Linked DNA regions of Homo sapiens. The protein of the gene in region 2 interacts with the protein of the main gene of each other region in a biochemical or structural test. Each region holds a gene or a part of one and is shown on either strand. Other genes may lie near its edges. The genes, in order: SYNJ1, LRRK2, MAP2K6, LGALS8, ANKS4B, GAK and RAB5B.

Region 1 (3,500 bases), on a different chromosome or scaffold from region 2:
GTGGAAAAGACCTCACACCATCATCCTGACCACCCCCACGGCTGTAAAGGAGAAGGAATCCCAGCCTGGATCCACCACAGCCGTGTGAAACCTGCAGCTGCTGAAACTTGGGAGGCAAAACCGAGCCCAGACAACTCCTGAAAGTGACTCTGAGGAGGATGACAAGCCCTGCTCCAGTCACACCCGGAAGCTGACTGGTCTACGCACGGCCGAGGCATGAGGAGAATCATCGTGGGACTCATTTTCCTTATAATTTGGACTTGTATAGTAAAAACTTCCACTGATTTTCCCTGCATAGAAGACTGCTCTCAGTGTATACATCAGGTTACTGAGGTAGGGTAACAAGTTAAAACAATCTTTCTGTTCTATAGTTACTATGAATGCCTAGGAACTTTAAAAGGAACGTGTTTATATAATGACACTCAGTACGAGGTATGTAGCCTAGGAAACGACTGCCCAGATGTGTGTTATGATCCCTCTGTGGCCTCCCAGGTCCACAGTTTTTGAAGTAAGATTAAGGACTGAAGACTGATGGGGACTTGTAAATGATACAAGTATTAGCCAAAACAGAAGAAAAAGGGGTGCCCAAACGCATAATCTTGAAATTTGATGCCTGTGCTGTCATTAAGAGCAATAAGTTAGGAAGGGGTGTGGCTTTTGATTGGGAAAAAGGCTATATGACCAAAAATAAGTATATTTGTCATGAATTAGGACTGTGTGGAAATCAATGTGGATACTGGTGTCATTTGGGCCACTTGGATAAAAAATGAAAAGGATCCAGTGCAGCTTCAGAAAGGAAAAAGTGGCCCTTCCTGTACTAAGGGACAATGTAACCCCTTAGAGCTAGTAATAACCAATCCCCTTGATCCTCGCTGGAAAAAAGGGGAGCGTGTGACCTTAGGAATCAATGGGGCTGGACTGGATCCTCGAGTAAATATCTTAGTTCGAGGAGAAGTTTACAAACACTCTCCTGAGCCAGTGCTTCAAACTTTCTATGATGAACTAAATGTGCCAGTACCAGAAATTCCAGGAAAAACAAGAAATTTGTTTTTGCAATTAGCCAAGCATGTAGCCTAGTCTCTCAATGTTGCTTCACATTATGTATGTGGAGGAACTGTAATGGGAGATCAATGGCCACGAGAAGCCCGAGAATTAGTACCTACAGACCCAGTTCCTGATGAATTCCCAGCTCAAAAGAATCACCCTGATAATTTCTGGGTCCTAAAAACCTCAATTATTGGACAATATTGCATAGCTGGAGAAGGAAAAGAATTCACTCACCCCGTAGGATGACTTAGTTGTCTGGGACAGAAACTGTATAATGGTACCACAAAAACAGTCACTTGGTGGAGTTCAAATCACACAGAAAGGAATCCATTTAGTAAATTCCCAAAGTTGCAAACCGTGTGGACCCATCCGGAGTCCCACCAGGACTGGACAGCCCCCACTGGATTATACTGTATATGTGGGCATAGAGCTTGTGCCAAATTATCCAACCAGTGGACAGGTAGTTGTGTTATTGGCACTATTAAACCATCTTTCTTCCTACTGCCCATAAAGACAGGCAAACTCCTGGGTTTCCCTGTCTATGCTGCCCGAGAAAAGAGAAGCATAGCTATAGGAAATTGGAAAGATGATGAATGGCCCCCTGAGAGAATCATACAATATTACAGACCTGCTACTTGGGCACAAGATGGCTCGTGGGGATACTGGACCCCCATTTACATGCTCAACCGAATCATACGGTTACAAGCTGTCTTAGAAATAATCACTAATAAAACTGGCAGAGCCTTGACTATACTGCCCTGGCAAGAGTCTCAGATGAGAAATGCTATCTATCAAAATAGATTGGCTCTCGACTACTTGCTAGCAGCTGAAGGTGGGGGTCTGTGGGAAATTTAACCTTACTAATTGCTGTCTATACACAGATGATGAAGGGCAAGTAGTTGAAGACATAATTAGAGATATGACAAAACTGACACATGTGCCTGTGCAAGTGTGGCATGGATTTGATCCGGGGGCCATGTTTGAAAAATGGTTCCCAGTGCTAGGAGGATTTAAAACTCTTATAATAGGAGTTATAATAGTAATAGGAACCTGCTTACTGCTCCCTTGTTTGCTACTTGTACTTCTTCAAATGATAAAAAGCTTCATCACTACCTTAGCTCACCAAAATGCTTCAGCGCAAGTGTACCATATGAATCACTATCAATCTGTCTTGCAAGAAGACATGGGTAATGAGGATGAAAGTGAGAACTCCCATTAATGAGTGAAGTTCTCAAAGGGGGGAATAAGGGAGGAGACCACCCCTCATATTGTCTTATGCCCAATTTCTGCCTCCAAAGAAAGAAGTGAAAACTAAAAGGCAGAAATGGAATCACAGGCAGATAGCCCAGCACTGTGCCCTGGGCCTGGTAGTTAAAAATCAACCCTTGACCTAACCGCTTGTGCTATCTATAGATTTCAGACATTGTATGGAAAAGCATCGTGAAAATCCCTGTCCTGTTCCATTCTGATTACCAGTGCATGCAGCCCCCAGTCCCATACCCCCTGCTTGCTCAATCGATCACGACCCTCTCACATGGACTCCCTTAGAGCTGTAAGCCCTTAAAAGGGACAGGAATTGCTCACTCGGGGAGCTCGGTTTTTGGAGACGTGAGTCCGCTGCTGCTCCCAGCTGAATAAAGCCCTTTCCTTCTACAACTTGGTGTCTGAAGGGTTCTTGTCTGCAGCTCATCCTGCTACACTTTAAGGAAAGATAATTCTATTATCTGTTTACCTACAGATGCATATTTAAGTACAAAAAGACCCCAAGAAAATTTTAAAACATCTTGATTTAAAAAGGCATGTTTCACGACCCAAAATCTTAATGCAAGTATTTTCTCAAGTATAGATATACCTGTCCAGCATTTTTCTGATTGATAAGTTGATCTCCTGCTATAAGAGAATCCCAATTTTGCTGTCTTATGAGCTCTTTAACTTCTTCGTTAGGGAGATCGATTCGATAGTTGAAATCACCACACCAAAATACATAGTCATGGGAAAATAGCATCCTTCCCTGAAAGCAATGAGATAGAATTTTAAATTCAAAACAATCAATGTTCAAAAATGTTTTACAACTATTTCTTTGCCTGAGATATGCTTGTCTCCTCCCATGTCCTGTTTCTTTGACCCAACAGTAATAACACATGTGAAACGAAAATAAATCTCAGGACCCCAAAATCACTAAGCCCAGAGAAAAATCAAGCCAGGAACTATGACAGGTAAACCTGCCTCCCATTTTACTCCTAAATAAGATAGCTCCAAAGATAAGAAGCTACATAACTCCCTCACAATTTGCCCACAGGAAATTCCTTGTGGACAAAGTATAGACTGAACTCAAAGTCATCCCTCTGAGACTCACCTGAGACAAATGCACATCTGACTGCTTCCTCTGCCCTATTGTTTATGCAAAAATGCAGATTCACTGAGCCACACTAAATTGTGTATTCAGTGGAAGG
Region 2 (3,500 bases):
CACACCACTGAAGTGGAAATACCTGTCTTGGCTCTCCAGAAAAATAAATAGCTCCACAAAGAGGAAATGTACCCTGTGGCTTCTCAGACGCATGAACAGAATCCCATACATTTATATTTTAAAATATATTCACAAAACAAGTCTATTCATATCTATTAAGGTGGGTCGTATTACTCACTGCATAATAGTTACTGCTATCTTGGGAAAAAGAGTTACCAAAAGCCTGAATGCATTGCTGCCCTACAAATAAAAATGGAAAGAGGGAAAATTGAGAGAGGCATAACCTTCTCCAGATTACTCTAATATAAAGATGCTGGAGTCGCTACCTGTAAAATGTTTTTAGAAGGATACACCTAATTTGTTTAAATCACTGGTATTCAACCCCACCCCTTATCTTTGGCAACATCCGGAGACATTTTTGATTGTCACATCTGAGGGAAGGGGAGATACTACTGACATCTAGTGGATAGACAGAGATGCTGCCAAACATTCTGCAGTGCACAGGATGACCCTCGATAAGAAAGAGTTAGTTATCCAAGCCAAAATGGCAACAGCTCAAAGACTGAGAAACTCCTATCTAGACTGCTTTCTGTAAATGAACATGGGATTTATGGATTTATGGGACATGGGTCTAGAGAAGGGAGAGTAATCACAAACATTTTCCTATATGGGTAGCTAAACAGACTTTGCTTTTTTGTTTTTTGTTTTGTTTTGTTTTGAGACGCTCTGTCGCCTAGGCTGGAGTGCAGTGGCACAACCTCGGCTCACTGCAACCTCCGCCTCCCAGGTTCAAGCAATTCTCTGCCTCAGCCTCCCGAGTAGCTGAGATTACAGATGCCCACCACCACACCCAGTTAATTTTTTTGTATTTTTAGTAGAGATGAGGTTTCACCATCTTGGTCAGGCTGGTCTTCAACTCCTGACCTCGTGATACACCCACCTCGGCCTCCCAAAGTGCTGGGATTACAGGAGTGAGCTACTACACCTGGCCAACTAAACAGACTTTGTAAATGACGTTTCCACATACACTACTCAAAACGTGTCCATTCATCTGAAACACATTTTAATGCAGGAAAAAGAAATATTTTAGGGATCTGTGTCTGACAGTTTGGGATTTCTTCAGAGGAAGGATGCACCATGTCTGGTACTTTCCTGTATACCTTGAAGTCTGGGGTTAAGATGTAGGATTCAGCAAGGACAATTCAGCATTTTATGTTAACCCACTATTACTAATACATTAACTTCCTGAGTTCCAAAGCATTTAAATTCAACCTAAACTTCCCAATCAATGCCAATAAGAGGGGTATAAAGGAGTTTATTTAGCTTTAAATATCATGTCTCAAATTTTGGACAACTTTTTGCTAATAATATTATGTCCTGACTGACAGATCTTAGGCATTATTTCTGGGGTAATTTGATTAAAATTAAATGTATACACACAACAACAACAAAAACTAAACAAAGTAAGGTCAAAATTGTCTTCAAATGCTTTATATTAAATCAATCTAATGCATTTCATAGTTGTCCCAATGACTCTCAGGAATGTTTAAAACTTGAGTATGTCAGCCTACAGTTAATAATAACATACTGTATACTTGTAAATTGCTATGAGAGTAGATTTTAATAGTTCTCACCACATAAATATTTGAGATAATGTATATGTTAAATAGCTAAACTTCTCCATTCCACAACATATACATATATCAAAACATCATGTTGTACACCATAAATATATACAATTTTTACTTGTCAATTAAAAAAATTTGTACAAAGTATATCTTTTTTTAAAAATGATAACCGAGGAGCCAGACAGATCACAGCATCGCAGGTCTTGTAAAGACATTAGCTTTTATTCTGAGAGACATGAGAAACCACACATGTAATCTACAGAATGACATACAGTAACATATGTTGACTGTTTCTTTCCCAAAGTAGTTATAATGCATACACTTTTCATCTTCTGAAGTGTATGAGCATGTTTTAAAAACATCTTTTAGGCCCAAAAATCCATGTGCAGGAAGTCAAGATACAAATGAGAATATTGAAACATGGTTACCATGACTTCACCTTTTCTCAATGAGCACCTAAACATGCTACATGAATTCAATGATTTCCATCATACTCTACTGAAAATCACTGATTGAATTCACGGAACCAAGAAATGTAAATTGTTCAGCATATCAAAAAAAAAAAAAAAAGTATTTGAGTATGTCACCATGTAACACTTTTGACTTTAATTTCAAGGCTTTTAATGAATATTTCTATGAGAATTCAGCATTGTCACACTGAGTCATAAAACCCCTGCTATGGCTACACTGAGGTGTGCTTCCTTTACCTATTCTGTCATTTTATAAAATATGGCTGCTTCACTTAACTCACCTGAAAACTGTCTTATTTGCCTCCCATATCCCTGGCAATTAAGGCAAATACAAAGATATATTTCATAAATATTTCTGCTTCCATGATAATCTCATCCTCATCTTGATCCTAGTCTACATGATTATGTGCAAAACAAATTCCAGATCTGTAATATTATATTCCTTTAAAATATATCATTCCAAATACAAAAATTATAACAAATATATGAAGACAGTAAAATCTATGACAATATAATTATGAAATCTATTTTCTAAATTATAAGGAGAAAATTACATCCTAATTTTTATTCTCAAATTAACAAAAAGAATTACCTAGGAGAAACTCTGGAGCTTGTTCAAATTCCAACTCATCATTATTCAACATAATATTTCTAGGCAGGTCAGCCAAAATCAAGTCAGGGGCAATCTGAGATATTGGAATGGTGAGCCTTGGTTGATCTGGATTTACTAAGAGATCTCCTGAGAAGTAATAAAACATTTTTTAAATAAAAACAACATTTAAGGAGATACATAAATTTGTGGTTTTGATGTGAAAAAATAATGGAATATTTTCTATAATTTCTAATCCCTCCCTTTCTAACCAATCCTATATTTCTCTAGGAAATTTGAGAACATTTTAAAGATTCACTTAGTATCTATCTACTTGGAATTTTAAAAACTTATTCCTACGTTCACTTGTAGAATTCTGAACTGCTGCAGACTACCAGACATCTGACTAGAAAGTTATCTACTCTCTGCTTTTGCCACATTCATGAAGCTGCAGCTGTTATTATATGGCAGACATGTTGGTAAATTAGGTCCATGTATTGTCTATTTGAATCTTTATAACAGTTCTATGAGATAGATGTGGTTGGTATTCCGGTTTCACAGATGAGGTTATGTTGCTCAATAAGCCAGCATTCAAACCCTCAAATCAACATTTTCTGAATCTAGAATACAAGATTTTATTGGTAATAAATATAATTCAGTTTTCTGAACTGTCCCTATAATTGAATATACTATTTTTCAACTCATCCCTTATGGATAAGAATATTTACATTTATTAAAAGTCACTTCATAAGTATTGAAGGATCACTTAAAAGCATTTGTAAGTTGTATCAAAACATACCTTCCTCTGCTTTC
Region 3 (3,500 bases), on a different chromosome or scaffold from region 2:
AATTACAATGCAATTTTCTTCTTGTGCTTCTTCTTTGTTTGCACTGATATTCCCATTATGTATTTGCTTAATTATTTGGAAGTTGCAAGAACAGCATGAAAAGCAACTTATAATGGCTGGCGAAGTGTCATTTCTCCTACCTAAGCCTTCTGAACAGATTTAAAGGTTGCACAATTCTCTGCTAACTTTCTTTTTAAAAAATATGAGAAGATGAATTGTCCGAAGAATCCCATCCAATAGAATTGAAGTGATTTCTGCATCCTGTGCTGGTTTTAGGAGCTGGTTTTTAAGTCTATGAGGCTTCTGAAGGATTGTCAGAGACAATCCTTTTTTTGTTGTTGTTTTTTGTTTTTTTTTTTTGAGACAGAGTCTCGCTCTGTCACCCAGGCTGGAGTGCAGTGGTGCGATCTCAGCTTACTGCAACCTCCGCCTCCTGGGTTCACGCCATTCTCCTGCCTCAGCCTCCGGAGTAGCTGGGATTACAGGTGCCTGCCGCCACCATGCCCGGCTAATTTTTTTTGTATTTTTAGTAGAGATGGGATTTCACCGTGTTAGCCAGGATGGTCTCGATCTCCTGACCTCGTGATCCACCCGCCTCGGCCTCCCAAAGTGCTGGGATTACAGGTGTGAGCCACCACGCCCGGCCCAGAGACAGTGTTTTTAACAGCTGGCTGCCCTCTAACAAAACAGGGAACTTCGCAAGGATCACCTCCCAGTGAAATGATTCTTCACTTCCTCCTTGACCACCTCCACTGCCTCTGCCCAGCCCCTTCCTCCCTGGCTTGTACCCCACTCTGTCTCCTTTGATGGTCTTCCTGAGTTGGCCCATGCGGTTCAGTATGTAGTCCATAATCTCCCTCTTTCTGAGTTGAGGAGGATATTCAGGTTATAATCCCCATACAATGAAGTCTATCAGAAATCATCGTAATTTTTTTTTTTTTTTTTTTTTTTTTGAGATGGGGTCTTGCTCTGTCACCCAGACTGGAGTGCAGTGGTGCAACCTCAGCTCACTGAAACCTCTGATTCCCAGTTTCAAGCAATTCTCCTGCCTCAGCCTCCCGAGTAGCTGGGATTACAGGTGCCTGCCACCATACCAGGCTAATTTTTGTATTTTTAGTAGAGACAGGGATTCATCATGTTGGCCAGGCTGGTCTCAAACTCCTGACCTCAGGTGATCCACCCACCTCGGCCTCCCGAAGCACTGGGATTACAGGTATGAGCCACCACGCCTGGCCAAATCATCGTAATTTAGTCAACTCCAGTCTGAGTTGAAGCATTAAATAAGCATTTGCAGCATCCCTGTCATCTGTTTTACTTTCTGGTCTGTACATCCCTTCTTAAGTCAGATTCTTGAGATTAGTCTTCTTTGGACAGACCATTAGCCCCAGGTGGAGCTGCTGATCACAACCCCTCCCTGTACCACTCCCAAGGCTGTTGTCATCATCACTTACCCTAAGCCAGTTACTTTTCATATAGTATGCTTTAGGATGTCCCATAAACACTATGGACAAAGTTGGTGTTATTATCCTTAATTTACGAGTGAGGAAATCAATTGTTGTTAACCAATTTGCCCATGGCTGGATAGCGAGTCAGTGGCAGAGGCAGGATGGATGTCTGACTGGTGGGCCTGTGCAGCAAACTGCAGCTCCTGGGCCAAATCTAGCTTCAGCTGTTGTTTTTGTTTGTTTGTTTGTTTGTTTGTTTGAGATGGAGTTGCGCTCTTGTTGCCCAACTGGGAGTGCAATGGCGCGATCTTGGCTCACTGCAATCGCCACCTCCTGGGTTCAAGCGATCCTCCTGCCTCAGCCTCCCGAGTAGCTGGGATTACAGGTGTGCACCACCACGCCCAGCTAATTTTTTGTATTTTTAGTAGAGACGGGGTTTCACCATGTTGGCCAGGATGATCTCGATCTCTTGACCTTGTGATCCGTCCTCCTCGGCCTCCCAAAGTGCTGGGATTACAGGCGTGAGCCATCGTGCCCGGCCAAGCCTCAGCTGTTTTTAAGTATAGCCCGTGAGCGAAGATGGTTTTCCCATTTTTAAATGATTGAAAAAAAATCAAAATCAATGTTTCATGACACATGAAAATGATACGAAATTCAAATTCAGCATCGACAAACAAAGTTTTATTGGAACACAGCTATGGTCATTCATTTATATGTTTTCCATGGCTGCTCTTTGCTCGACAGCTGTCGAGTTGAGTAGTTGCGCCAGAGCCCCTATGTCCCACAAAGCCAAAAATATTTGCTATCTGGTCCCTTGCAGAAAATGTTTGTTGACCCTTTCCTTTATGACTTTATTCCATCGAATACTGGGGTCTCTTCATGACAGAGCTCCCAGAAACATTCCTCTCTGGCTTTAATTGGAAGTTGTTAACCTGGATAACTACTGCTCTGCTGCTCAGCCAGAGACCTCTTGGGCCCAGCCCACAGGAAACGTCTGAGTGGTGTCTCTCCTAGTTATAAGAATTGTAGGTCATTGCTCATTTCCTCTGAACTAAGTTACCCGTCTCCTTTTGCCCGTCCTGGGGTCTTTTCCCCTTAGTTGTGTTCTTCCTGTTTGCTTTATATTTCTTTCCTTTTTTTCTTCCCTTCGATGAGAAGCTGCTTATTAATTCTTCCCTGAGACTCTTCATCCTCCCCTTATTGATCCCACATTTCTTTAGAAAGTATTAGGTTGGTGCAAAAGTAATATTGTTTTTTATCATCACTTTTCATGGCAAAAACCACAATTACTTTTGCACCGACGTAAGAAATCAAAAATAACTCTCCTGCTACCACCATTGCCTGGCTTGTTGGTTATCATCATGACCCAGCTCAGAGGTTCCATCATTTCTTTTGTGTCAACGTGAAAGCCTCCCTGCATGGGACCAGAGAGGTTTCCAGTTATCATCTCCTGCAAAGTTTAGAGCTGTTTTCTTACATTAACCCCCTAACCCCGGGTGGGCAATTTTCTTTTGAGGACGAATATTCTTTGTGCTCACAGAGTCGCTTACATCGTGGATATTGGGTATATTTAGGAGAGAAGGTTTTGATAGAGGGTCTGAAAATGAAGGGAGGTGAAAGCTACATGTAGACAGAGGAGCTTTGGTAGAATGAGCCCAGATTTGTTCACCACATCCAGAATGATGTAAATTTAAGTCACGTACAAAGAAGTGCTAATTTCTACCATCCCAGATGGTATCACTGCTGTGATTCTTTCTGTGCTCCAGATACTGTGCTTAGTGATGAATGTGAATTCTATCATTTACTCTCACTATGGATCAGTGAGGTGATATCCCATTTTGTAGATCAGCAAACTGAGGCCGGAGAGGTTAAGAACTTGCCTCAGTTACCAAACCGATAGTGGCAGAGCAGAGGTTTTAGCCAAGGTCTGTCTGACCTCAGAATCTGAGCTCCTGGCGACTCCACTTGAGACGTCACTCCAAAATAAAGGTATGAAATCCATTACACCAAAGACATGGTCGAAGAATGAAAAACGAGTGTATTCTGTAGGAATTT
Region 4 (2,750 bases), on a different chromosome or scaffold from region 2:
CCACTAATGGCATGTATCCTTTCCTTTCAGATGATAATTTATTGTGATGTTAGAGAATTCAAGGTTGCAGTAAATGGCGTACACAGCCTGGAGTACAAACACAGATTTAAAGAGCTCAGCAGTATTGACACGCTGGAAATTAATGGAGACATCCACTTACTGGAAGTAAGGAGCTGGTAGCCTACCTACACAGCTGCTACAAAAACCAAAATACAGAATGGCTTCTGTGATACTGGCCTTGCTGAAACGCATCTCACTGTCATTCTATTGTTTATATTGTTAAAATGAGCTTGTGCACCATTAGGTCCTGCTGGGTGTTCTCAGTCCTTGCCATGAAGTATGGTGGTGTCTAGCACTGAATGGGGAAACTGGGGGCAGCAACACTTATAGCCAGTTAAAGCCACTCTGCCCTCTCTCCTACTTTGGCTGACTCTTCAAGAATGCCATTCAACAAGTATTTATGGAGTACCTACTATAATACAGTAGCTAACATGTATTGAGCACAGATTTTTTTTGGTAAAACTGTGAAGAGCTAGGATATATACTTGGTGAAACAAACCAGTATGTTCCCTGTTCTCTTGAGCTTCGACTCTTCTGTGCGCTACTGCTGCGCACTGCTTTTTCTACAGGCATTACATCAACTCCTAAGGGGTCCTCTGGGATTAGTTATGCAGATATTAAATCACCCGAAGACACTAACTTACAGAAGACACAACTCCTTCCCCAGTGATCACTGTCATAACCAGTGCTCTACCGTATCCCATCACTGAGGACTGATGTTGACTGACATCATTTTCTTTATCGTAATAAACATGTGGCTCTATTAGCTGCAAGCTTTACCAAGTAATTGGCATGACATCTGAGCACAGAAATTAAGGCAAAAAACCAAAGCAAAACAAATACATGGTGCTGAAATTAACTTGATGCCAAGCCCAAGGCAGCTGATTTCTGTGTATTTGAACTTAGGGCAAATCAGAGTCTACACAGACGCCTACAGAAAGTTTCAGGAAGAGGCAAGATGCATTCAATTTGAAAGATATTTATGGGCAACAAAGTAAGGTCAGGATTAGACTTCAGGCATTCATAAGGCAGGCACTATCAGAAAGTGTACGCCAACTAAGGGACCCACAAAGCAGGCAGAGGTAATGCAGAAATCTGTTTTGTTCCCATGAAATCACCAATCAAGGCCTCCGTTCTTCTAAAGATTAGTCCATCATCATTAGCAACTGAGATCAAAGCACTCTTCCACTTTACGTGATTAAAATCAAACCTGTATCAGCAAGTTAAATGGTTCCATTTCTGTGATTTTTCTATTATTTGAGGGGAGTTGGCAGAAGTTCCATGTATATGGGATCTTTACAGGTCAGATCTTGTTACAGGAAATTTCAAAGGTTTGGGAGTGGGGAGGGAAAAAAGCTCAGTCAGTGAGGATCATTTTATCACATTAGACTGGGGCAGAACTCTGCCAGGATTTAGGAATATTTTCAGAACAGATTTTAGATATTATTTCTATCCATATATTGAAAAGAATACCATTGTCAATCTTATTTTTTTAAAAGTACTCAGTGTAGAAATCGCTAGCCCTTAATTCTTTTCCAGCTTTTCATATTAATGTATGCAGAGTCTCACCAAGCTCAAAGACACTGGTTGGGGGTGGAGGGTGCCACAGGGAAAGCTGTAGAAGGCAAGAAGACTCGAGAATCCCCCAGAGTTATTTTTCTCCATAAAGACCATCAGAGTGCTTAACTGAGCTGTTGGAGACTGTGAGGCATTTAGGAAAAAAATAGCCCACTCACATCATTCCTTGTAAGTCTTAAGTTCATTTTCATTTTACGTGGAGGAAAAAAATTTAAAAAGCTATTAGTATTTATTAATGAATTTTACTGAGACATTTCTTAGAAATATGCACTTCTATACTAGCAAGCTCTGTCTCTAAAATGCAAGTTGGCCTTTTGCTTGCCACATTTCTGCATTAAACTTCTATATTAGCTTCAAAGGCTTTTAAACTCAATGCGAACATTCTACGGGATGTTCTTAGATGCCTTTAAAAAGGGGGCAGATCTAATTTTATTTGAACCCTCACTTTCCAACTTCACCATGACCCAGTACTAGAGATTAGGGCACTTCAAAGCATTGAAAAAAATCTACTGATACTTACTTTCTTAGACAAGTAGTTCTTAGTTAACCACCAATGGAACTGGGTTCATTCTGAATCCTGGAGGAGCTTCCTCGTGCCACCCAGTGTTTCTGGGCCCTCTGTGTGAGCAGCCAGGTGTGAGCTGTTTTAGAAGCAGCGTGTTGCCTTCATCTCTCCCGTTTCCCAAAAGAACAAAGGATAAAGGTGACAGTCACACTCCTGGGTTAAAAAAAGCATTCCAGAACCACTTCTCTTTATGGGCACAACAAAGAAACGAAGGCTGAAGTTCGCCTACCCAAAATGAAAAGTAGGCTTTACAGTCAAAAGTACTTCTGTTGATTGCTAAATAACTTCATTTTCTTGAAATAGAGCAACTTTGAGTGAAATCTGCAACATGGATACCATGTATGTAAGATACTGCTGTACAGAAGAGTTAAGGCTTACAGTGCAAATGAGGCGTCAGCTTTGGGTGCTAAAATTAACAAGTCTAATATTATTACCATCAATCAGGAAGAGAATAATAAATGTTTAAACAAACACAGCAGTCTGTATAAAAATACCGTGTATCATTTACTCTTTCTGCAGCTCTATACGATAGGCAGGAGAGGCTTAT
Region 5 (4,086 bases), on a different chromosome or scaffold from region 2:
TCTTTAACTGCATCCTATAAATCTTGATATGTGGTATTTTCATTTTCATTCTGTTCCAAATATGTCTGATATAGGACTTGTATCCAGAGTATATAAATAATTCTTATAATTTATTAATAAGACAACCACTTAAAAATTGGGCAAAAAGATTTGAATAGAAGATGTAAGAATGGCTAATGGGCACATGAAAAGATGCTCAATATCTTAGTCATTAGGAAATTGAAAATTAAAGCCATAATAAGACCACTTCATATCCACTAGGATGACCATAAACAAAAAGATAGGCAATAATAAGGCTGGCAAGGTTGTGGAGAAATTGAAACCCTCATACGTTATTGGTGGAAATGTGAAGTAGTACAGCCACTTTGGAAAACAGTCTGGCAACTTCTGAAATTTAAATGTAAATTGCCATGCAACCCAGCAGTTTCACTCCTTGATATATACGCAAGACACATGAAAATATGTGTCCACACAGAGACTTGTACATCAGTGCTCATAGCAGCATTATTCATCATTACTGAAAAATGGAAACAACCCAAATATTCATCATATTCATGAAACATTGAATGGATGAAGAACATGTGGTATGTTAGCACAGTGGAATATTATTCAGCAGTGAAAAGAAAGAAACCATTACATGCTACACATGACAAACCTCAAAAAAGTATGTGAATTGAAACAAGCTATACACTAAAGACTATATATTGTAGGATTCCATTTGTCTGAAATGCCCGTAAAAAACAAATCTATAGAGACAGAAAGCAGACTGTGGTTTCCTGAGGTTGGGAGTGGAAATGGGATTGACAGCAAATGGCATGAGGGATCTTTAAGGGCTGATGGAAACTGGATTATGATAATGGGCATGCAACTCTATAAATGTCCTAAAAATCATTGAATTGTATGCATGAAATGGGTAAATTTAATGATGTTATACCTCAATAAAGCTGTTCTTTTTGGAAAAAACAGCTAGTGAACTAGAGTAGCTCTGCATTTTATTAAGAAATTATTTCTTACATCCTGTGCCTAGATGGCCAATATTACACTCAAGAAACTAATGGACATAGAAAAATTGAATGTACCTCCAAACACTCAAGATGAATACAGCAGTCTTCAATAGTCAACGTCATGGCCATTCCAGAGAGAAAAGGTCCAAGTTCAGTGCCTCGAACCTTGTTGCCTTCCGTGAAAGGAAGCAGTTGAAATGAGCTTTGCCCCTGGTGACACTCTTCCTTGTCACTAATTAACCAGCTCTATAGGAAGGTTGCTCCGCCAACACCTTGCTCTGCCTGGAGAGACATCTGGCCAAGTTCTGGTGAGCAGGAAAAATGTCTACTCGTTACCACCAAGCTGCTAGTGATAGTTACCTGGAACTTCTAAAAGAGGCTACCAAGCGAGATCTAAATCTTTCGGATGAAGACGGCATGACTCCTACTCTCTTGGCAGCCTACCATGGGAACTTGGAAGCCCTAGAGATAATCTGCAGTAGAGGGTAAGTTCAACCCGATGGTTTCTGTTGGAAACAGTGTTCATGGTAGGTTTTTGCAGACAGCAGCAAGAGGCAGGGACGTCAATACAAATACTTTATCCTCTTTCTAGATTGTCTAAATGATTGGATTTTTAGAGAAAGAGAGAAAACTATGCCTAGAGATGCTCTCTTTTCTCACTGAGGACTGGCACTATAGGAGTGGCTCATCCCTTAGCCACAATCAGAGGAGAGACCCTGAACTACGGCATTATCTGCATGGGGAAGAGGGAAGATATTTTAATTCTATGCCTTTAAAAATGCTTTTCATGAAATTTAAATAGTTTTCTCTTTTCAAAGAGGCCATTGTTTTACTTGGTTTTAAGTTGCCAACCTTGGTTGGAACAAATGACATGGTTTTAGTTTTTTTTTTATCTATGCCATCAAAATCTCACAGTCTTTTATTAACTTTCAATCCCAGTGCAAGCTCATGATTTTTTTATTTTTTATTTTTGACACAGGGTCTTGCTCTTTTGAATGGAGTTGCTGGCTCTACAAGGACTCTTTAGCCTATCTTAACTCTATCACTTCTTTGGCTAGTGGATAGATACACACACACACACACACACACACACACACACACACACCCCATCTCTTTGCCCAGATTTTAATGGAGGAGTAAGCTAGTTCCTCTGCTTGTTCTGCCTGTTATCAGAGGGCTAGGTTGTGTTGGCAACCGTAACCCAAGAGGGGTAAAGAAAGAGAAAAGGACAAGGTAAATAAAGGAGCCAAGTGAATCCAATTGAATACCCATTTATTCAGTATTTGTTATGTGCCAGCCACTTATCTCTTAAGATAAGAGATATTTTGCTAGCCACTGGGCACACTGTGATCAACAAGACAGCCACAGTCCCTGTCATAGTGAGCAGATTTGAGAGGGGAAGACAAGACATCTATGATATTTGTGTGTGTGTGTGTGTGCATGTTTGCTCTGAGACAGGGTCTCACTCTGTCACTCAGGCTGGAGTGCAGTGTCAAGATCATAGCTGACTGCAGCCTTGAGCCCCAGGCTCAAGTGGTCCTCCCATCTGAGCCTCCCGAGTAGCTGGGACAAGAGGTGTGCACCACCATGCCCAGCAATTTTTGTACTTTTTGTAGTGATGGGGTTTTGCCATGTTGCCCAGGATGGTCTTCAACTTATGAGCTCAAGCGATCTGACAGCCTCGGTCTCCCAAAGTGCTGGGATTACAGCTGTGAGCCACTGTGCCTGGCTCATCTATGATATTTGTTACAAAAAGGGAAATAGAGGGCACTAAATAGGCATCTACCTCAATCTCAGGGGTGAGGGAAGGCTTCCCTAAGGGGAAAGCATTTAAGCTGGGATTAGGAAAATGAGAACAAGTTGGCTAGACGAAAGAGTGTTTTCCCTAAGATGGAAAACTGCTCTAGTTCTGAGAACTAGAGAAGCTGAGTATGGCTGGATGTGGTTCAAGTAGGAGTGGGGTCAGGACAAGTATAAGAGATAAGACCAGATCACAAAGAGCCTTGTCAACTCTGGTAAGGACTTTATCCTAAGGGCCCAGGAAGCCATGTCTTGGGTAGGGAAGCTGCCAGAGTAGATTTATGTTTACAAAACTCACTCAGGTAGATGGATAACAGTCGGAGAGAATGTTTGGGGACTGTTTTAGTGGTCGAGATGAGTTGGACTAGGGTAGTGACATTGGGAATGGGAAGATATGGTTGGATTTGAGTGGCAGTTTGGATGTAGAATCAATAATGATTGACTGGATGTGGGCAGATAAAGGAAAAGGAGGGTTAAGGTCCCAGGTTTTGGATGTTGACACCCTTTATTAAAATAGGGGACATTTAGGAAGTGTCAGAAGAACCCAGGATTGGGAGAGTTCCTGAGTTGAAGATTGAATGAGAAAGTGAGTGAAGCAGATCTTCCCCATCTCTCTTGTCTGAATAAGACTTTCTTTTCTCAGACACATCGATCCCCATCAGCCAGCCTTCTCCAGTCATCTCATCTCTTCTCCTACTCAGCCTAGGGTTCCCCAGCTTTCTCCATCTACTGAAAGTCTACCTCATTCCACAAACTGCAAGATGTCAGTTACTTTAAAATCAAAGTATTAGCCTATTCTTGCATTGCTATAAGGAAATGCCTGGGCCTAGGTAATTTATAAAGAAAAGAGGTTTCACTGGCTCATAGTTCTACGGGCTGTACAGGAAGTATAGTAGCTTCTGCTTTTGGGGAGCCTTCAGGAAGCTTCCAATCATGGCAGAAGGAAAAGGCATCTCACATGGCAGAAGCAAGAGCAAGAGAGCAAGGGGGGAGGTGCTAGAAACCAGATCTAATGAGAGCTCACTATCATGAGGACAGTACCAAGGGGAATGGTGCTAAACCATTCATGAGAAATTCGCCCCCACGATCCAGTCACCTCCCACCAGTCCCTACCTCCAACATTGCGGATTACAATTTGATTTGAGGTTTGTTCCCCACCAAATCTCACAGATCCAAACTGTATCAACCAGTGAGTTTGTCCTCCTAGAAGAGGGTTTGGGGGTTCTGGGGTTCTTCTCAGCAGAGAGCTCTTGTTCCATTTGAGGACATTTTGAATAGTAAT
Region 6 (3,500 bases), on a different chromosome or scaffold from region 2:
GGGATGAGGGCTGCGTGCGTTTGTTGAGTTCCAGCTGATGCTTCAGCCTGTGGGAAGTTCCTCCCTTGCACTGTGTCATAGATCAGGGGGCAGAAGGATGGGCTCTGAGGGCACCCATACCGTACCTCTGCCCGACGTGGGCAGGCGTGAGTTGTCAGTTTAGAGAACTGACCTCTGCATTTTCATTGTCACAGCTCCTGGAGCAGAATGGAGGCTACGGGAGCGCCACACTGTCCCGAGGGCCACCCCCTCCCGTGGGCCCCGCTGGCAGTGGCTACAGTGGAGGTGAGTGCCCTGTCCTGTGCCCGCCACCTGTCCCTCGCTCCTGCTGCACCCCGGGCACCCGCAGCACATTGGGATGGAGTCTGGGGTCCTTCTCTCCCGGGGCCTCCTCTCCCACCAGAGATGACTGTGAGGTCAGGGTCCCTGAGCACACCCTCAGGTTCGGCAGTTCCCTGGGGCTCACAGAGCTCAGCAAAGCTGGTGTCTTGGTGCAGTTCAGGAGGGGGTCAGGATTCGGACTAAAGCCAGCCAAGGGAAGAGGCTCCAGGGCAGGGCCCAGGAGACCGGGCCCGAGTGACCAGGCGGCCTCGCTCAGGGGTTATGTGGGAGGCAGCCTGCGCCGTGGCCAAGACCCCAGCATAGATCACATTGTCGTGTCTGGCACAGCCCAAGGCCCCAGGGAAACAGACACCCCTTTTGGGGCTGGAGGGGGCATCCCAGGTTCCTTCCCAGGAGCTGGGAATGAAGGGCCAGGCCTGCTGTGGGCAAGGTGAACCATTTACTACAGTAGCGACCCTGAGGCCAGGGGGCAGGAGCAGGCATTGGACAGTGGAGGGCGGTGGGGGAAGACAGTTCTGCCGCTAGTGTGAGGTGGCCCCTTCTGCCGCATGAGGAGTGGGCACCTGTGATGGGCCTGGGTGTCCCTGGAGGGCCCTCAGCTGGTGAGGAGTGGAGAGGGCCCTGGAGACAGACGCTGCATGCTCTTGGAACTCCGTGCCGGGAGTGTTCCAGAAGGTTCCGGGTGAGCCGTCGAGGACATGGCCCTGACAGGCAGCGGCTGGGTCTGCAGCTCTGCATGGCGCTGACCCCTCCCGACCTCGCCCCGCATCCCCACTGCGGTGTGGGAGGTTTCACCTGGGTCCTTCACCTCCGCTTCCCAGGGAGGAGCTCAGCTCCATGTCTGGGGCACCCCGGTCCGTGCAGTGTGGGTCCCACACATGCAGGTGTAGTGGCTGGCTGGGTCTCTGCTGGCTGGAGGAAGGGTGAGTCCTCGAGCTGCTGGGTTCTGCAGTGCCCCCATCTGCTCGGTGCTGCCTGGGCCTCGGTCTCCTGTCTGCATGAGGGACTTTGGCCAGGTGTTTTTTTTTTAACACCACTTGTGCCACCAAAGCCGCCTGTGAAGACCTCACTCGCAGGACCCACCAGGCCAGGGGCCACCACTCTGCCTTCACGTCCAGGGTCATGGTGGCCTGAAGCTGTGGCCGTGAGGCCGGACTATCCCCACAGACAGAGTCCCAGCCCCAGCTGTGCTGAGGCGGCCACATAGCCCTTCCGCACCCAGATTGACCATTTCCTGGGTCTCTGGAAAGGCTGAGGACAGGGTAGACCTGCCAGTGCTGAGGCCTGGCTTCCCGCTGGGTACGTGTGGGTCAGGGGCCTGGCCATACCACCCACTCCCTGCTCCTGCTGCCTGGGCCCAGCCAGCAACCTGCACCTGGGGAGGTGGGACCGAGCGCCTGGGGAGGTGGGACCGAGCGCCTGGGGCCTGGGCCCAGCCAGCAACCCGCACCTGGGGAGGTGGGACCGAGCACCTGGGGCCTGCTGAGACTGTGTCTCCCTGCAGGCCTGGCGCTGGCGGAGTACGACCAGCCGTATGGCGGCTTCCTGGACATTCTGCGGGGTGGGACAGAGCGGCTCTTCACCAACCTCAAGGACACCTCCTCCAAGGTCATCCAGTCCGTCGCTAAGTGAGTGTGAGGCTCCAGAGCCCTGGACCTGCCGCACGCTCGTTCCAGGCTGCAGCCCCGGCCCTTGCTTCCTGGCTGCGGTGGAACAGCTGGTCATCAGGCCCCACAGGGGCCCCTGAGGCAGTGGGACAGCATCACCCGCTTCTCCCAGGGAGTCGGAATGAGCCCAGCATCCCACAGAGCCAGGCAGATCCCTTTCCTTTCATCGCCTGGGGGGCAAGGCCCTGCTGAGGAGATGCCTGGGCCCTCCCCTCCCTTGCTGCAATGTCGCCCCTCACTCTGGGGCGTTCCTGGCTTGTTCCCGGGACTCTGTAAATTGGGTGAAACCTCGGTGGTGGCGCCTCACTGAGCCAGTCCTTGAGTTAAAGCCCTAGTTACTCAGACTTAGACCAGGTGAGTCCCAGCCTGTGGTGGGAGAAAGTCTCCCTCTGGGTGGGCTGTCCAAGGGCGCGTCTGTGCGGGGGTGGCCCCGACATCGGCCCACAGGCCCGGCAGCCTCTGCTCACGGAACACTGGGAATGTTCCAGAGTGCGGCCCCTCTGCGTTGCGGGGTCCATGCGCTGGCTCTTCTGAGGAGCTGAACGCCCAGGAGCACGCTGGCTGCTCATCTGGCCCTGCGGTCGCACCAGCTCAAGGGCGTCGGCTATGTCAGGAAACAGCCTAGGAGCTGGGCTGGACTGGTGCCCGTGATGCAGGAACTGCGGCCCCTGGTGGGCCCACGTTCCTTCCACAGCTGGCGACACCTTCGGGCTTTTTCTTATGTTTTTTGTTCTGTGCTGTGATCACTGTTTTGTGTCCCCAGCACCAGGTAGACGTGTGTGCACTTGTGCCTGCATGTACCGCAGCGTCTGCACATGTGAGCGTGGGTGCATGTGTCTTTGAGCATGTGTGCATGTGAGGGAATGGGTGTGTTAACATACATATGTGAACATGTGTGCATGTGTGTGTAAATGCTGGTGTGAGTATGTGCATAGGCGTGTGTGATTGCTGGTATGAGCATGTGTGCTGGTGCTTGTGAGTCCTTGTGCTTGTGAATCCTTGTGTGAGCTGAGTGCTCGTATTGTGTGCAGGCACGTGTATGAGCACATGTGCATGTTGGAGCATGTATGCGTGTGTGCATGTGTATGCATGTGTAGGAGTGCTTGTGAGTGCGCGTGAGCTGTGTGCATGTGTACACGTGTGCGAGTGCCTGTGAGTGCACGTGAACTGCATGCATGTGTACGCATGCGCGCGAGTGCCTGTATGAGCCGCGTGCATGTGTACGCATGAGTAGGAGTGCCTGTGAGTGTGCGTGAGCTGCGTGCATGTGTACACACGCATGCAAGTGTGTGTGAGCCACATGCATGTGTACGCATGCACACAAGTGCCTGTGTGCGTGAGCTGCGTGCATGTGTATGCATGTGTGCGAGTGCCTGTGAGTGCATGTGAGCCGCATGCATGTGTGCACATGCGCGCGAGTGCCTGTGCCTGAGCTGTGTGCACATGTATGCATGCGTAGGAGTGCCTGTGAGTGAGCATGAGCCGCGTGCA
Region 7 (3,500 bases), about 16 Mb from region 2:
GCCACTGGGACCGGCCTCTGTTTTTATAAAGGGTTTCCATTTCTGGGGAAAAGAATGGGACTAAGAGGGCCAGCTCCATAATCAGGTCTTATATCTCTTTTCAAAAGCCTTACCGGCCCGGCGTGGTGACTCACGCCTGTAATCCCAGCACTTTGGGAGGCCGAGGCAGGCAGATCACCTGAGGTCAGGAGTTTGAGACCAACCTGGCCAACATGATGGTGAAACCCCCTCTCCACTAAAAATACAAAAATTAGACAGGTGCCACGGTGTGCACCTGTAATCCCAGTTACTCGGGAGGCTGAGGCATGAGAATCGCTCGAACCTGGGAGACAGAGGTTGCAGTAAGCCAAGATTGCGCCACTGCACTCCAGCCTGGGTAACAGAGCAAGACTCCATCTAAAAAAAAAAAAACCCTTACCAAACATTCAATCTCCTATTACCCCAAGGCACTCACCTCCAATGGTGCTCTCCTGGTACTCATGGAACTGCCCTTTGACAAAACGTAATACCAGGCTTGACTTTCCCACTGCAGATTCTCCCAGCAGGACCAATTTGAACTGGCAAATTTTGCTGGCCTGGGGTTGCCCATTGGGCCTAGCTGTGCTTCTGCTAGTCATGGCCAGATTATCAGAATGGGAAAGGGTGGAGGGAGGGGGATACTGTAAAGGGGGGAGGGGGAAGGGGAGGGGATTTCCAGGCTTCAACACTCCTGCAAGAAAAAAAAGTGAATAAAATTAAACATACGTCCATTGAAGCTGCAATCGCTTTTCAGAGAAGGATAGAACCTCTTCATCTCCTTGCTTCTATGAGGACTTAGCTCTGAGAAGGTCCCAGGCAGCTGATCCTCAGTGGTAAGAGTTGGGAAGAGCAAAATAAGAACTGCTTCTGGAGTCTGCCCTACCACATAATCTCTAACTGCCAAGGGAGCCGAAATAGAGAGACTGAAAACTGAGAGTTTTTAATTCCCCAGTAATTCCCCACCAGGTCTTCAAAGTTTTTTGTTTGAGTCACACAAAGTGATCAACCTTTAGCTGGCCTGAAGAATATCCAGATCCACCCACCGGTACCCTAGATCCCCAGTATCTCCTTGGCATCCTGGTGCTGTGCTCTTCTTTTCCTTTTCTTCTTTTTTTTTGAGACGTCACTCTTGTTGCCCAGGCTGGAGTGCAATGGCACAATCTTGGCTCACCACAACCTCTGCCTCCCGGGTTCAAGCAATTCTCCCACCTCAGTCTCCCGAGTAGCTGGGATTACAGGCATGCACCACCACGCCTGGCTAATTTTGTATTTTTAGTAGAGACGGAGTTTCTCCATGTTGGTCAGACTAGTCTAAGAAGTCCTGACCTCAGGTGATCTGCCCGCCTTGGCCTTCCAAAGTGCTGATATTACAGGCATGAGCCACCGTGCCTGGCCTTCTTTTCATTTTTCCTTAGCTCTTTGTCAAAATGAGAGATTCACTCTAGGGGTGTGGGATAAGAGTCACCACTCCTAAGGGCAGAAGGGTAGTTGCTGCTGTATCCTTTATATATGACCGGTCTCCCTGATAAGACATTTCTAAAGATCTAACCAGGGTCCCATTGCCACAAAATCTATCCTTTCTCATTTTTGGTTGAAGGTAAAGAGAGAAATACAACCAACAGATCACATTCATTATCAACTCTTTGTTTCATTAACAACTCTTTTTTCACTTTGTTTCTGCCATCTTTCCAAATCTGAAAGTCTATCAAGAATCAGTAAGCTTGACCTACTCTCAACTTGCAGCTGTCTTGCTGGTGCCTAGGGATTAGATTACCCTCCACACCAAAGGGGCCTAACAGCTGTAGCCCTCCAAATTAGAGGCAGAGAAAGGTATACCTTCTAAAGACATGCAGAAGTCTCCAGAGGATGGTATAGGGCGTTAAGTCTGCAAGCAATCAGTATTTGATGAAAGAATACACTGAATCAGCTCCTCTATCTTCTAAGAGGGCTAAGAAAGCTGCTGGTGGGGCAGGGAACAGAGAGAAGAGTTGGGACTTTGAGATTCTAATCGTCTAAATCTGAATACATTTCATCATCCTGACTCTGAGCGGAAAGGAACTATGAAATTCAAAGGGAAGTTAGCATAGGCAGAGCATGCAAAAACCTCTCTCCCAAACCTAAGCATTGCTTGAGAGTTGTACTTTGCTTGTTCAAATTACTCTTTCGCTTTTCCAAAGCAGATCCTAGTGACTTCACAGACATCATACTCTATGGCATATGTGGGGAAACATCATTATTTTGTCACCACAATTAGTGGGACTGGAGTTAAACTGGGGTTAAAAATTTTCAGTAACCCCACTTACTAGATCGTAAAGACAGAAAATCATACAGGAGGCAATTCAGAGGAATAAAGGCTCTGGAGTCCAATTCTCCACGTTTGTTTTTCAGCTCTACTTACTAGCTATGAACCTTGAGCAAGTCACTAAATATATGTGTGCATTCATTTCCTCATCTGTAAAATGAGATAATAGCCTTATAAGCACCTACTTCATAAGGGTGTTGTAAGGATTAAATGAGATAATGCATATAAATAACTAAAGTATTTTAAGTATTTGATAGATACTAAGTGCTAAATAAATATTAAGCTACTAATCATTACTAATATGATATAAAGAGAATTTCTCTACCTCTCTAAGCCTTACCTTCTACCTTTGTAAAATGGAAAAAATACCATCCTCATAGCTACAAATAATAAGTGAAAGATGTGTTTAGCATAGTGCTAATAGCTATTAAAATATATCTCAATATTAGTTGTTATCAATATATTCCTAAAAAGCAGCCACAGCCTGGGTGCAGTAGCTCATACCTATAATCCCAGCACTTTGGGAGGCTGAGGTGGATCACCTGAGGTCAGAAGTTCGAGCCCTGCCTGGCCAACATGGTGAAACCCCGTCTCCACTAAAAATACAAAAAAAATTAGCTGGGTGTGGTGGTGCATACCTGTAATCCCAGCTACTCCAGAGGCTGAGGCAGGAGAATCGCTTAAACCCAGAAGGTAGAGGGTGCACTGAGCTGATGCGCCACTGTGCTCCAGCCTGGGTGACAGAGCGAGACTCCGTCTCAAAAAATAAAAGGCGGGCACAGTGGCTCACGCCTGTAATCCCAGCACTTTGGGAGGCAAAGGCAGGCAGATCAGGAGGTCAGGAGTTTGAGACAAGCCTGGCAAACATGGTGAAACCCCGTCTCTACTAAAAATACAAAAATTAGCTGGGCGTGGTGGCGCGTGCCTGTAGTCCCAGCTACTTGGGAGGTTGAGGCAGGTGAACTGCTTGAACTTGTGAGGTGGAGGTTGCAGTGAGCTGAGATTGCACCACTGTACTCCAGCCTGGCGACAGAGCAACAGCGAGACTCAGTCTAAAAAAAAAAAAAAAAAATTAGCCGGGTGTGGTTGGTGGCCGGCATTTGTAATCCTACTCGGGAGGCTGAGGCAGAACTGCTTAAACCCGGGAGGCGGAGGTTGCAGTGAGCCGAGATCGTGCCAC

The links.
Region 1: of the proteins of LRRK2 (region 2) and SYNJ1, one has a biochemical effect on the other in vitro, tested with the Homo sapiens proteins (2 studies listed by BioGRID).
Region 3: of the proteins of LRRK2 (region 2) and MAP2K6, one has a biochemical effect on the other in vitro, tested with the Homo sapiens proteins (2 studies listed by BioGRID).
Region 4: the proteins of LRRK2 (region 2) and LGALS8 form a complex in vitro, tested with the Homo sapiens proteins (2 studies listed by BioGRID and IntAct, with this or other methods).
Region 5: the proteins of LRRK2 (region 2) and ANKS4B interact on a protein array, tested with the Homo sapiens proteins (2 studies listed by BioGRID and IntAct, with this or other methods).
Region 6: the proteins of LRRK2 (region 2) and GAK interact on a protein array, tested with the Homo sapiens proteins (3 studies listed by BioGRID and IntAct, with this or other methods).
Region 7: of the proteins of LRRK2 (region 2) and RAB5B, one has a biochemical effect on the other in vitro, tested with the Homo sapiens proteins (2 studies listed by IntAct).

What each region holds. Positions count from the first base shown.
Region 1 is NC_000021.9:32,662,014-32,665,513, forward strand, and holds part of SYNJ1 (synaptojanin-1), read right to left. Parts: intron 3,059-3,500; coding exon 2,900-3,058; intron 2,704-2,899; exon of another isoform or gene 1-2,703. UniProt on the Homo sapiens protein: Phosphatase that acts on various phosphoinositides, including phosphatidylinositol 4-phosphate, phosphatidylinositol (4,5)-bisphosphate and phosphatidylinositol (3,4,5)-trisphosphate. Has a role in clathrin-mediated endocytosis.
Region 2 is NC_000012.12:40,322,497-40,325,996, reverse strand, and holds part of LRRK2 (leucine-rich repeat serine/threonine-protein kinase 2), read right to left. Parts: coding exon 3,487-3,500; intron 2,838-3,486; coding exon 2,691-2,837; intron 1-2,690. UniProt on the Homo sapiens protein: Serine/threonine-protein kinase which phosphorylates a broad range of proteins involved in multiple processes such as neuronal plasticity, innate immunity, autophagy, and vesicle trafficking.
Region 3 is NC_000017.11:69,421,197-69,424,696, forward strand, and holds part of MAP2K6 (dual specificity mitogen-activated protein kinase kinase 6), read left to right. Parts: intron 1-3,500. UniProt on the Homo sapiens protein: Dual specificity protein kinase which acts as an essential component of the MAP kinase signal transduction pathway.
Region 4 is NC_000001.11:236,547,982-236,550,731, forward strand, and holds part of LGALS8 (galectin-8), read left to right. Parts: intron 1-30; coding exon 31-180; 3' UTR 181-2,750.
Region 5 is NC_000016.10:21,232,413-21,236,498, forward strand, and holds the start of ANKS4B (ankyrin repeat and SAM domain-containing protein 4B), read left to right. Parts: upstream 1-1,286; 5' UTR 1,287-1,325; coding exon 1,326-1,489; intron 1,490-4,086. UniProt on the Homo sapiens protein: As part of the intermicrovillar adhesion complex/IMAC plays a role in epithelial brush border differentiation, controlling microvilli organization and length. Plays a role in assembly of the complex.
Region 6 is NC_000004.12:887,317-890,816, reverse strand, and holds part of GAK (cyclin-G-associated kinase), read left to right. Parts: intron 1-194; coding exon 195-285; intron 286-1,846; coding exon 1,847-1,970; intron 1,971-3,500. UniProt on the Homo sapiens protein: Associates with cyclin G and CDK5. Seems to act as an auxilin homolog that is involved in the uncoating of clathrin-coated vesicles by Hsc70 in non-neuronal cells. Expression oscillates slightly during the cell cycle, peaking at G1.
Region 7 is NC_000012.12:55,984,078-55,987,577, reverse strand, and holds part of RAB5B (ras-related protein Rab-5B), read right to left. Parts: intron 710-3,500; coding exon of another isoform or gene 618-709; coding exon 455-617; intron 1-454. UniProt on the Homo sapiens protein: The small GTPases Rab are key regulators of intracellular membrane trafficking, from the formation of transport vesicles to their fusion with membranes.